Regions from separate parts of the Homo sapiens genome. Here all the other regions are linked to region 2. Evidence: fine-mapped expression QTL. A gene starts in region 2. Each other region holds a variant in brackets. All regions are shown on one strand. Distances are from middle to middle.

Region 1 (4,146 bases), 120 kb before region 2:
GTGAGGAGGCAACCTCGTGTCTATTCGGTCAAACCACATGCAGCTGCCTTTCGCGCTGGCCAGAAACAGCCGTGTATCCGCAGTCTTACTGTGATCCGCTCACTCCGTCCACCCTCTCTCGTCCACCTGGCCATTCTGTGTCCCTCATCCTCTGTCTCCACCGTGGTTTTCCCGAATATTCTCTCTGTGAAAGGCAGCAGGCCCAGAGCTTCCCAGAGCATTTCCCCCTCTCCGTCGAGGGGACCCTGGGGCAGGTCCTTCAAGAGCATTTGTGGGAATTAGGAGATGGGCACGGAAGGCTGAGGAGTATGTCCAAGTCACCCAGCCAGCACCTGAGGCAGCCAGACTCCAAACTTGGTCCCCAACAGCAGGCCACGTGCTCACACACTGCACCCCTGCCCTGCAATCCACGCCTGTGGGCTGTGGCCCATGTGACGGTTTTACATCTGCTCAGGAGGTGAAGGTCCCATTATTCAGTGGATGTGAGGTGCTGCTGGGACCATGTCTGCAGCTGTGAGTGATGCTTGCGTCAGTGGACACTCCGCATGGCAGCGGACGTGCACGCAGGCAGGCCCCACCCAGCCAGGCATTGAGAGAAAAGACGGGTGGGGAGTTCCCAGAGAAGGATGCCAGCCTTCAGACCGTGACACGGAAACCCCACCCGGGTCTACAGCCTTCACACCACGACACGGAAACCCCACCCGGGTCTGCAGCCTTCAGACCTCGACACGGAAACCCCACCCGGGTCTGCAGCCCTCAGACCTCGACACGGAAACCCCACCCGGGTCTGCAGCCCTCAGACCTCGACACGGAAACCCCACCCGGGTCTGCAGCCCTCAGACCTCGACACGGAAACCCCACCCGGGTCTGCAGCCCTCAGACCTCGACACGGAAACCCCACCCGGGTCTGCAGCCCTCAGACCTCGACACGGAAACCCCACCCGGGTCTGCAGCCCTCAGACCTCGACACGGAAACCCCACCCGGGTCTGCAGCCCTCAGACCTCGACACGGAAACCCCACCCGGGTCTGCAGCCCTCAGACCTCGACACGGAAACCCCACCCGGGTCTGCAGCCCTCAGACCTCGACACGGAAACCCCACCCGGGTCTGCAGCCCTCAGACCTCGACACGGAAACCCCACCCGGGTCTAGCAGCCCTCAGACCTCGACACAGAAACCCCACCCGGGTCTGCAGCCCTCAGACCTCGACACGGAAACCCCACCCGGGTCTGCAGCCCTCAGACCTCGACACGGAAACCCCACCCGGGTCTGCAGCCCTCAGACCGTGACATGGAAACCCCACCCGGGTCTGCAGCCCTCAGACCGTGACACGGAAACCCCACCCGGGTCTGCAGCCCTCAGACCGTGACACGGAAACCCCACCCGGGTCTGCAGCCCTCAGACCTCGACACGGAAACCCCACCCGGGTCTGCAGCTCTCAGACCGTGACATGGAAACCCCACCCGGGTCTGCAGCCCTCAGACCGTGACATGGAAACCCCACCCGGGTCTACAGCCTTGAGACCGTGACACGGAAACCCCACCCGAGTCTACAGCCTTGAGACCTCGACACGGAAACCCCACCCGGGTCTGCAGCCCTCAGACCTCGACACGGAAACCCCACCCGGGTCTGCAGCCTTCAGACCTCGACACGGAAACCCCACCCGGGTCTGCAGCCCTCAGACCTCGACACGGAAACCCCACCCGGGTCTGCAGCCTTCAGACCTCGACACGGAAACCCCACCCGGTTCTGCAGCCCTCAGACCTCGACACGGAAACCCCACCCGGGTCTGCAGCCTTCAGACCATGACACAGAAAACCCACCCACTGCCCACCTTAAGGATCTCAGACTTGGCAACCCCACAATTGTGTGAGCCAATTCTTAGAATCAATCAATTTCTTCACACACACACATGAAAATGCACCGCAGATGCACACGTGTGCAACATAATCACTCAGTCAAGCATACACATGCACTGTTACCCCCACACACAGGCACACTCACACCCACACACACGCACTCCACTCACACACAGGCGCACTCACACACACGCACTCCC[A/T]CCCACATACAGGCGCACTCACACAGTCACACACAGGCACTCCCACCTACACACAGTCACACACACACACTCACACACATGTGCACTCAGCTGTCATTCCTGTCAGCCTCTGATGTACCTGCAGGGACAGCTCATTCTGTGAGCACCTAGGGGTTCTGGGGTCAGCCCTCATGTCCGAGGAGGGGTGTTCAGGGGACATGAGGCCCACTGTGGCCTCTGCATTCTCCAGGTGGCACCGGGGACCTGAGGAGGCCCCAGCTTGCTGCCAGCTCTCTCGAGCAGAATGCAGACACGTCCCAGAAGCTGAAAGAAAGAGCCTCGACTGCATCAGTTGGTGCGCGTGGGCGCTGACAGTCCAGAACAGCCCGGTCACGGAGCAGCCCTGGAGATGCAGGCCCAACCCCACCCCCTATGTCCGCACACCCTCCCTGCAGCATGAGTCCAGGGACACCCGCGACTCCGAGTCCTCAACCACCCCCGCTCCCTGCCAGGTCAGGCGTGGGGATGGGGGTCTGGGCCCCTCAGTCCTCCCAGGTGAAAGCCGGGACACCACCCTCACAAGGATTACCAGGAGGGGCACTGACCCCAAGGGCACCTGGAGAAGAGAGAGCCGATTCCGGGGTGCCGTGTGTGAGGTCCCTGATGGTGGCTCCTTTGGAGATGGCTGGAGAACCACGCCTGTGATTCCACTGTCCCTAACCAGGCCAGCGACTCCGCCCTCCCTCACCACACCGGCGACTCCACCGTCAGCAGGAGCCCAGGGATGAAGGGGGCGAGCAGGAGCGGAGCCCGTGTATTAATCATGCTTTCATATTTTCTGTATCTGATGCTTTGACATCTGGAACCTCACTAGCCCGAGAGGCCTGCCCCTCCCGGGTGAGTGATTTCCTAGAGCTAGTGAGCACCCCCCCAGCGTCTTTCCAAATGCAAACCAGGCAACGAGAGTCCACGCCCCACCAGCCAACGCGAATCCACAGCCCACTGCCTCTGTCCTTCACTCTGGGCTACCATCCTCCCACCCAACCACTCAGGAGGATGGCCCATGCCCCAGAGCTGCTGAGACGATGGAAGCCAGGCCCCCCAGGCCTGCTCACCCGGCCTTGCCCATTCCTGGCCACATCCCCCTCATACCCTCTGCCTCCTGTCCAGCCTGGTGCCTCCTGGGTGGCCCTGCCTGGTGGTACCCCCTTCTCTGGGATCCGTGCGTAACAAACCATCTCACCAATGGCCATTGTCTCCTGGCCTGCTGGCTGCGCTGTCCTGAATAACGATAAAGCCACTTGGAGACCAGGGCAGGCGGTGGCACCCTGTTCCTGCTCAGTTCTGTGGCACGCCATTCCTGCTCAGCTCCTGATCTTGCAGAGCAGGGGATGCACACCCGTCACAGAGGCCCATCTCACTGTTCTACGCGGATCTGGAAGATTCTGGCTGACAGGCAAAGCCAGCGTGAGGCTGTGAGAGTGGAGAAACCTGCCGGCCTCTGTAGCACCCTCCGCTGGTGCTGACTGGCCTGTCAGCGTCCTCACCTGCCACGCTGTCCTGCCCGTTTAAGGGCGTTTGGGAGGAAACGCGACACAATCGCTGTTGGTTTCCAGACGCCGGGTCTCCGCAGCTCTGGGTGGCTTTGTGGCCGCTTCGGCAGAACAGACACAGGTTTCATCGGGGCCCTGCCTGGAGCCCCAGCTCTTTCTCGTGGTTTGCAGGTGACACAGCCCAGGCTCTCAGGGACAAAAGTACTTCCTCGCACACCGAGCTGCAATTTACCAGCCCTCCTGTCGGGCTGTAGGCCCCACACACGAGACACAGTCAGTTTCTAAATGGAGGCCAGGACGCGGCGCCCGGCACCGCCTGGATGCCACTGCAGCCCGGGGAGGATTGCTGGGTGTGGCCCTCGCTCTTGGTGAGGCTGTTTGTGTGCTGGCCTCGACGGAGAGCACAAGCAGCTCCTCCAGGGAGGGCGTGCTTCCTCCCTTTCCCAAGAGCGCTGCCATGCCAGGGCTTGGCGAGTGCGGGGACCACTCCGAGGGCCAGGCAAGGCTAGCGTGGCCCAGGGTCCACTTGATCCTGCTTGTTGGCTCCAAGACCGAG
Region 2 (4,146 bases):
TCCCACTCGAGCCTGTTACGGATGCTTTCTGGAGGAGGTTTGCTGGGGCTGCCAAGGCAGAAGCCTGAATCATCGGCACGGAACGGAAAGCCACACCAGCTAGTGATGTAGGCACATGCAAACTTTCTCCTTCCTGGCGCCCCGGTGCAGAGTGGCCTTGGGGGCGGCTGCTCCTCCGGGAAGGTGGAGCAGCTGGAAAAGTGCTTGCTCTCAGCAGCTGTGGCCGCTGGCCCTGACCTGTGGTGATGCCGGTGCTGCTCCTCGGGCTGACCTACGTCCGCTCGTGATGAAACAGACCCACCGGGAGCTGGAGGCTTTCATGGATTCTGGGGCTCCCAGGTGCCACAACTTGGGCCCCCCTGGGTAATGAGTCCTGCCAAGCCCTGCATGATCCTCAACTCCATCCTCCCAGGAGTCTCAGGTCTCAGCTTCAAGCTTCTCCCATAACAACTTTCTAACGCGGCCTCGGGCACCCCCAGGACAGGGGGCCGCCTAGCCCAGTGGTCGAAGCATTTGGGGTGCCTTCGAACCTCAGGGGCAAAGGACACTGCACCAGCAGCCTCCCAAGTGTGGCGTCCCCACCCTCCTCTTTCCCCACCTTCAAGAGTGGAGGGGTCGGCGCAGCCTAAACCTGACGGCCCCCACTCCTGGAGCGCCAAGCCAGCCCCCCACCCCACACTCCTGGACCTAGGCACTGCCTGCTTCTAGAGCAGCTCCAAAGATCCTCTGCAGAAGTTCCCTCGGAGAGCAAGTTTGCGTCATTGTGGGGGCAGGGGGATTCCTCAAGTCTCCACTGGAGGGGTGGGTGCCCGGTGCGGGGGGAACCCAGGTTGCTGCCCGCTGCTGAAGGGGCTTCCGCGGCCCTTCCCTCTCCTCTCTCCTGTATATTCCCTCCCACAGGGGCGCAGAGGGGCGCGCACCCGAGGCCGGCCTGACCCATCGCGCCCGGGGTGGCCACTGTCCCGGGCAGGGCTGCCCCCACTCCGCCCCGGCGCCCCCGCTCACCGTTGAGCTGGTTGTAGACCACCTCCTCCAGGTGGTCCAGGCGCTGCAGGATGGCCTCACGGTCCCCCAGCGTGCCCACCTTGGCGTGTCGGCTGCGCACCCGGCGGTCGCCGCTCACGATGCGCACGAGCTCCTGGGAGCGGCCCTGCAGGCGGCAGTACACGGAGAACAGGACGATGCCCACGAACACCAGGATGTTCACCGTCAGCAAAGTTCGGATCTTCCTGGCCACCGCCATGAACACGGCTGCAGCGGGGGCCTCACCCGCGGGGCATCCCCAGCATCCCCGCCCGGGCCTGGGCTTCAGCTTCGGCTTCGGGGACCATGAGCCGCCCGGGGCTGCGGGGGCTGCGGGGCTCGGCCGGAGCTGTCCCTTCAGCACCAGCTCAGCGCGCCGGGCCACGGCCGCCGGGGGTCCCCCAGAGCGCAGAGGGCTGCCCGGGGCTGGGGTCGCGGGGCGCGGCCGGCATCCCCCGCTCAGAGGGCGCGGCCCCGCCCCGGGGAGCGGTGAGGGGGGCCGGGGGCGCCGGGGGGCGGCGGGGAAGGCGCGGGCGGGCGGCGCTCGGTGTCTGTGCCGGCTCCTGTCCTGCCCGCCCCGCAGCCACCGCGCCGGTGCAGAGTGACGCGGCCTCACCTCACCTCATCTGCAACCGCGGCCCCAGGACCGCCCCGCCCCGCCTCCCCCACCCCTCAAGGCCGCCCCCCGGGACCGCCCCGCGCGCCTGCCCCGCCCCCCCCACCGCGCCCCCCCGGGGACCCCAGGACAGCAGGTCCGGGGGGCGGGGGACGGGGGGCGGGGCGCGCGGGGTAGCCTGGGCCAAGGGCGCGCGGGCGCGGGGAGCGGGGGCGGGGCAGGCGCGGACCCTCCCTCCCCAGGACCCGCCAGACGCCCGGGGCCCCCAACGGCCAGCACGGTCCGAATCGACCCCAAGCTTGACCCGAGGGCAGCGGGGCCTCCGGGAATGCCTGGCCAGGGCGGTGTCGCCGGGAGTGAATGGGGGAGGGGGCGGCCGGGGCAGGACCCGGGTCAGGGCCACTCTGGTAGTCTCCTGCCCACCCCTCCCCAAGCCGAGCTCCCGGCCTCCCTCCCTCTCCCCCGTCCAGGGCTGAGGACTGGGGAAGCTGAGTCCCGGGACGGGTATGGGGGGGTTGGGGCTTGGGATGCAGCCGGACCTCCGGGAACAGCAGGGGGCCCTGGAGCCACCAGGAGGGAGAAGGCCCCGTCCCTGAGCCAGGCTCGCAGGTAAGACCCGAGGCCGCAAACCCCGGCTGCCCCCACCCCCAGCCCAGGCTCTGATCTGGCCCCACACTGGCGTTTTGTGGAGGAGACCCTGGAAGCCAGGGGAGATGTCAGCCAAGCCGCGCAGCACAGGGGCCCAACTTCCACTGGCAGAATGCAAGCACCCAAGAGGCAGGAGTTTCACCCAAAGGCAGGGTTCACCCCTGTGTTCCCAGAGATTGGACACATAGCTGGTGTTCAGTAAACATTTGCGGGATGAGTGAATAAATGACGGAGCATTTATTAAGAGCATGGCTGTGCTTGGCTCTCCATACAGAGATGAGTAAGGCAAGGGGCTTCACAGCTCTTGGCTGTGTGTGTGTCCGTGTGTGTGCATGAGTGTGCATGCATTTGCCTCTGTGTGCCTGTGTATCTGCATATGTGCATGTCTGTGTTGTCAGCACGCATGCATGTGCATGTGTCCACGTGTTTCTGTGTGCATGTCTGTGTGCCCGTGTGTGCATGTATCTGTGTGTGCATGTGCCTGTGTCTGTGTGCATTGTCTCTGTGTGTGTTCATGCGTGTGCATGTGTCTGTCTGTGCCTGTGTGTATTTGTGTATGTGTCTATGTATGTCTGTGTGTGTGTTCACATGTGTGCATATCTCTGTGTTCATCTCTGTTTGTTCATGTGTGCATGTGTCTCTATATCTGTGTGCATCTATGTGTCTGTGTTTGTGTGTCCATGTGTGCATTTGTCTGTGTATCTGTGTACGAGTGTCTGTGTGTCTGTGTGTGCATGTCTGTGTTTGTGTGTTCATATGTGCATGTTTCTATGTATATATGTCTCTGTGTTCATGTGTGTTCATGTCTGTGCATGTTCACATGTATGCATGTTTCTCTCCATGTGTCTCTGTGTGTGCATGTTTCTGTGTATGTATGTCTGTTCATGTGTGTGGTCTGTGCATGTTCAAATGTGTGCATGTCTGTGTGTTCATATCTGCATTTGTTCATGTGTTCATGTGTCTATGTGTGTGTTTGTATGTATATCTGTGTGTGCATGTGCCTGTGTGTGTGTGTCTGTGTATGCACATGTGTGTAGGGGGATCTGGGGGGTTCTGGCTCTGAGCTTAGTACTCTATTCTTCAAATATCCGTTTCTTGGCATCGGGCATGACAGCCTATCCAGCTTGGAGGTTTTCTGCCCCTTGGCTGAGGCTGGGCGAGCCGAACACCCATTTCTCCTTTCTTTGTTGAGCCATTCTTTTCTTCCTCAGGATGTTTATCCCAGGAAATCCAGAGGATCAGAACCAGGCAGGACCCGGCACTGGGACGGAGGCAGCTGTCTGCGGGGCGTTTACCGTAGATACGTATCACCTGTTCTGAGACAGAGCCTGGGAGGCTGTTTTTAATCATCCGGGAGGTGATTACTATGCAGCCAGTGTGATAAACCCTGGTCTGTTTTTGATCAATAGCCATTCCCGTGTCCCTCCTGAAAATGCCGTATTCTTCTGCTTATAAAATGCAGGTTGTAAAATGTTTCCCGACGTTACGAGGACAGCTGCTGGAATAATGATGCAGGTAGCTGGCACACACGCAGTGCAAAGGTTTCACCAGACATGGTCTTCTATGCCTATCACCTGGTCAATACGAGCAGCAGCCACGTTAAGGTGTAATACACACTGGCGTCATCTAACGTTCCATGTGAGGAAACTGAGGCACACAAAGGGCAACTGGCTTGCTCAAGGTCGCGTGAATGGCAAAGCGTGGATCTGGGATTCAAGCCCAGACAATTGGGCTCCAGAATTGACTTTATTAGTCATGATCACTCCAGAGAAAACATCAAGCACTTTTCATTACATGTTTAATGAAAATGATGTTAAAGTGGTTTTGTAGGAGAAAACATTTCATTCATGTAAATACAT
Region 3 (4,146 bases), 29 kb before region 2:
TGACTCACTCCCATAACTAACCCACTCCCACCACACCTAACCATACCTGAGATGACCAAGCCACTCCTGAGATAACTCACTCCCATAACTCACCCACTCCCACCACATCTAACCCATCCCTGAGATAACCAAGCCACTGCTGAGATAACCCACTCCCATGATAACTAACCCACTCCCACCACACCTAACCCATCCCTGAGATGACCAACCCATTCCTGAGATAACTCACTCCCATAACTAACCCACTCCCACCACACCTAACCCACCCCTGAGATGACCAAGCCACTCCTGAGATAACTCACTCCCATAACTCACCCACTCCCACCACATCTAACCCATCCCTGAGATAACTAAGCCACTGCTGAGATAACCCACTCCCATGATAACTAACCCACTCCCACCACACCTAACCCATCCCTGAGATGACCAACCCATTCCTGAGATAACTCACTCCCATAACTAACACACTCCCACCACACCTAACCCATCCCTGAGATGACCAAGCCACTGCTGAGATAACCCACTCCCATGATAACTAACCCACTCCCACCACACCTAACCCATCCCTGAGATGACCAACCCACTCCTGAGATAACTCACTCCCATAACTAACCCACTCCCACCACACCTAACCCACCCCTGAGATGACCAACCCACTCCTGAGATAACTCACTCCCATAACTAACCCACTCCCACCACACCTAACCCATCCCTGAGATAACCAAGCCACTGCTGAGATAACCCACTCCCATGATAACTAACCCACTCCCACCACACCTAACCCACCCCTCAGATGACCAACCCACTCCTGAGATAACTCACTCCCATGATAACTAACCCACTCCCACCACACCTAACCCATCCCTGAGATGACCAGCCCACTCCTGAGATAACTCACTCCCATGATAACTAACCCACTCCCACCACACCTAACCCATCCCTGAGATAACCAAGCCACTCCTGAGATAACTCACTCCCATAACTAACCTGCTCCCACCACACCTAACTCATCCCTGAGATAACCAAGCCACTGCTGAGATAACCCACTCCCATGATAACTAACCCACTCCCACCACACCTAACCCACCCCTGAGATGACCAAGCCACTCCTGAGATAACTCACTCCCATAACTAACCCACTCCCACCACATCTAACCCATCCCTGAGATGACCAAGCCACTCCTGAGATAACTCACTCCCATAACTCACCCACTCCCACCACACCTAACGCACCCCTGAGATAACCAAGCCACTGCTGAGATAACCCACTCCCATAACTAACCCACTCCCACCACATCTAACCCATCCCTGAGATGACCAAGCCACTCCTGAGATAACTCACTCCCATAACTCACCCACTCCCACCACACCTAACGCACCCCTGAGATAACCAAGCCACTGCTGAGATAACCCACTCCCATGATAACTAACCCACTCCCACCACACCTAACCCACCCCTGAGATGACCAAGCCACTCCTGAGATAACTCACTCCCATAACTAACCCACTGCCACCACACCTAACCCATCCCTGAGATAACCAAGCCACTCCTGAGATAACTCACTCCCATGATAACTAACCCACTCCCACCACACCTAACCCACCCCCACCACACCTAACCCACCCCTGAGATAACCAACCCACTCCTGAGATAACTCACTCCCATAACTAACCCACTCCCACATTAAGGGCATTAACCCCTTGGAGAGGGCAGAGCCCCTGCAGACCTCTCTCAATGCCATGGTGGGGGTGAAGCTTCCCATGTGGGGGCAGCGGGCGACGCATTCACAGCACAGCACTGACCGTTCCTCGTGCAGGCGTTGCACAAGCTTTGCTTCCTTTAATCCCCAGGGTTCCCTCCGAGCCAGCTGCTTTTGTCACCCCCATGTAACTGATGAGACTCCTGAGGCTGAAGTTTGGGCCCATGGCCAGGAGGCAGTGAGCCCCAGCCACACTCCGTCACAGTGCTCCGAACTGCAAAGCTCTCAAAGAGGGTGTCCAAAGGGACCAAGAAAGGCACCACCCCTGTATGGTGGCAGGCAAAGGCGTTAAATAGCCACTAAACCATGGTCGCTCCACTTTCAGGAGAGGAAGGGCATCCTCTCCCAAAGAAGCAGGTGACAGTGCCTGCCTGGCCTTGGGGACCACGGCTGTGCTTCCACTCCGCGCCCTGTTTCACAGACAGAAGTGCTGCTGTGGTGGGCACGTGGGAATGGTCCATACGAGAACCACACAGGGGTTTCTGAGCCAGACCAAGGTGCCAGCTGGACACTTCCCCTCCGGGGCACA[T/C]AAAGGGTCCCTGTCCATGGGGCTGCCCCATCGTCGGCCCCTGCCCCTCCCAATTCCACCCGGAGGTAGGGATGGCTGTGCGAACATTCACCGCCGGCACAGCAGGAGGACTGCCTGGTGGCCGCGGAAAAGGAACATGCCATGTGGACACATTCAGGTTGAACCAGCCCTTGGAGGAGGGACCTGGGGCCCCACTCGCTGGCCAGAGAGGGAGGCCAAGCCCTCCCTGGCAAATGCAGCCTCCCCCATGCCCTGCACAACCTTCATGACCCTGGACAGGGCAGGTGATTTGGATGCGGCTCCAGGGGGGCACGGAACATTTGTGTGCCACCTTCAAGATGGAGGGGTCTGCATTTTGCTTTTTGCCTCCACATAAAGTTATGGCCACAGATGCCTTCTGTGCCGTCAGAGGTAGAATTCAATTGCAGTCGTAGCAATGACCTTCCAACCACTAGGTAACATCCATCAGACGCTTGTCCACAGAAACACCTGCCTGACAACCCCGAGGGGCTCACGTGTTTATCACTTATTTATTAATTACATATTTAGGATTGCTTATTTCAGAAATTGAACCACTGTGTCAAAGATAGAGAAATTTCATGAATCTTGGTGCCAAGTCATTTTCCAGAAGGTTTAGATTAGTTTTGTTTCACTGCCAGCAATATATGCTTCCACTACTTTAATTAGAAAGTGCATCACTTCTGATTGGAAAAGTCATAAATGCTTTTGGTAGAAAATTCTACACACACACACACACACACACACACACACACACACACAGGATCACCTGGGGTCTCTTGCTGCAGGGAAAACTAGTATCAGTATTTTCACACTCCATATTATTCTGTAAGATCACGTAATGCCTCAGCGCAGTTCGATCCATGTATCTGGTGTCTGCCGCCTGCATTCTGTTTTTATCACTACGTCTTGAGTATTTCCCCACGTCACTAAAAATTCTTCATAAACATAACTTTGATGGCTGCAAACATAAAATGTCAATTTGTAGCCGTGCCATTTATTCACCCATCCATTATCAAAACTCACGGAGCGTCTGCTAAATTCCAAGAGCTGCCTGGGTGGGGCAGGTCCAGGTGGCCCTGGTGAACGCAGCACACACCTGCCTGCCCCCCAGAGCTCATGCCCCATCATGCCCACAGGTGAACAGGTGCCAGCCCAGGGCAGCCGCTTCCACGCAGGTGTGGGTCAGAGGCAGGGGCAGGATCCCCAGGAAGAGGAGTCGGAGGGAAGAGAAAGGCCAGGAGGGCAGGAAGGTGTCCTGTGAGTGGCTGCGCATGCAGGTCAGGGCTGTGGCAGCAGAAAGGGGACGGGACGGGGTGGGAGCTTTCTGTGCCGCTGGGATCTTGCTTTGAGCCTTGTAGGAAGTGGGAGCGCAGAGGAGCTTTGAGCTGAGAGGGAGAGAGGAGGGTGGGCACAGTGGTCAGGTTTTCTATGCAGAGGGACCACTCCGGTGACCGTCTAAGGGGGGCGAGGGTGGAACCCAGGGGCCTGTGCAGAGTCTGATGCTCCGATCAGCCCTGGGGTGAGACGGTGTGTGGACATGGAAGACGCGGTTTCCCACCCTCTGTCTGTCTCTCTCTCGGGAAAGCCTCCCTGTGTATTTCAGGACTAGCCGTCCCCATGCACACTGTGGCTGTCACCCCTGTGGCCTTCACCCGGTAGTCCCCGTCAGACCCTCCACCGCCGGGATGCAGTGACTGCCCAAGGCTGGGCAGGCGCCCTGAGTGGATTCGTCACCAGGAGAGAGGCCCCCACCCCGGGCACCTTGAGCAGCACAGGGCCACCAGGGCATCTTCATTTAACACGAGAGGCAGCTGCCCAGAATCCACCACCAAAAAC

Which allele goes with the higher level. Alleles are on the strand shown, and positions count from the first base shown. SD is a standard deviation of normalised expression in the study named. Not every link is listed here.
In carriers of allele A in region 1, the expression in lymphoblastoid cells of the gene that starts at base 1,629 in region 2 tends to be lower than with T alone (moderate effect, 0.61 SD a copy in GENCORD).

Evidence for each region. PIP is the estimated chance that this variant, and not a neighbour inherited with it, causes the effect. A credible set is the group of variants that fine-mapping cannot tell apart.
Region 1: its variant is the best candidate, but not a certain one, in a credible set for the expression of GALNT9 in lymphoblastoid cells (GENCORD, PIP 0.50).
Region 3: its variant is the best candidate, but not a certain one, in a credible set for the expression of GALNT9 in aorta (GTEx, PIP 0.60).

The regions. Positions count from the first base shown.
Region 1 is chr12:132,211,475-132,215,620 of GRCh38, forward strand. The region is part of intron 6 of GALNT9 (polypeptide N-acetylgalactosaminyltransferase 9); the gene reads right to left. Among named protein-coding and RNA genes, the nearest start is that of LINC02361, 24 kb to the left of the region's middle. The variant A/T (reference allele first, on the strand shown) is at 2,059.
Region 2 is chr12:132,327,961-132,332,106 of GRCh38, forward strand. GALNT9 (polypeptide N-acetylgalactosaminyltransferase 9) reads right to left here and starts at 1,629. Exons shown (of 11, transcript NM_001122636.2): 1 at 1,006-1,629. The coding sequence starts at 1,243. It overlaps LOC101928416 (a long non-coding RNA gene), which reads left to right and starts at 1,890. Exons shown (of 2, transcript NR_120467.1): 1 at 1,890-2,248; 2 at 3,499-3,615. RefSeq lists an enhancer at 1-267.
Region 3 is chr12:132,299,200-132,303,345 of GRCh38, forward strand. The region is part of intron 1 of GALNT9 (polypeptide N-acetylgalactosaminyltransferase 9); the gene reads right to left. Among named protein-coding and RNA genes, the nearest start is that of GALNT9-AS1, 26 kb to the left of the region's middle. The variant T/C (reference allele first, on the strand shown) is at 2,290.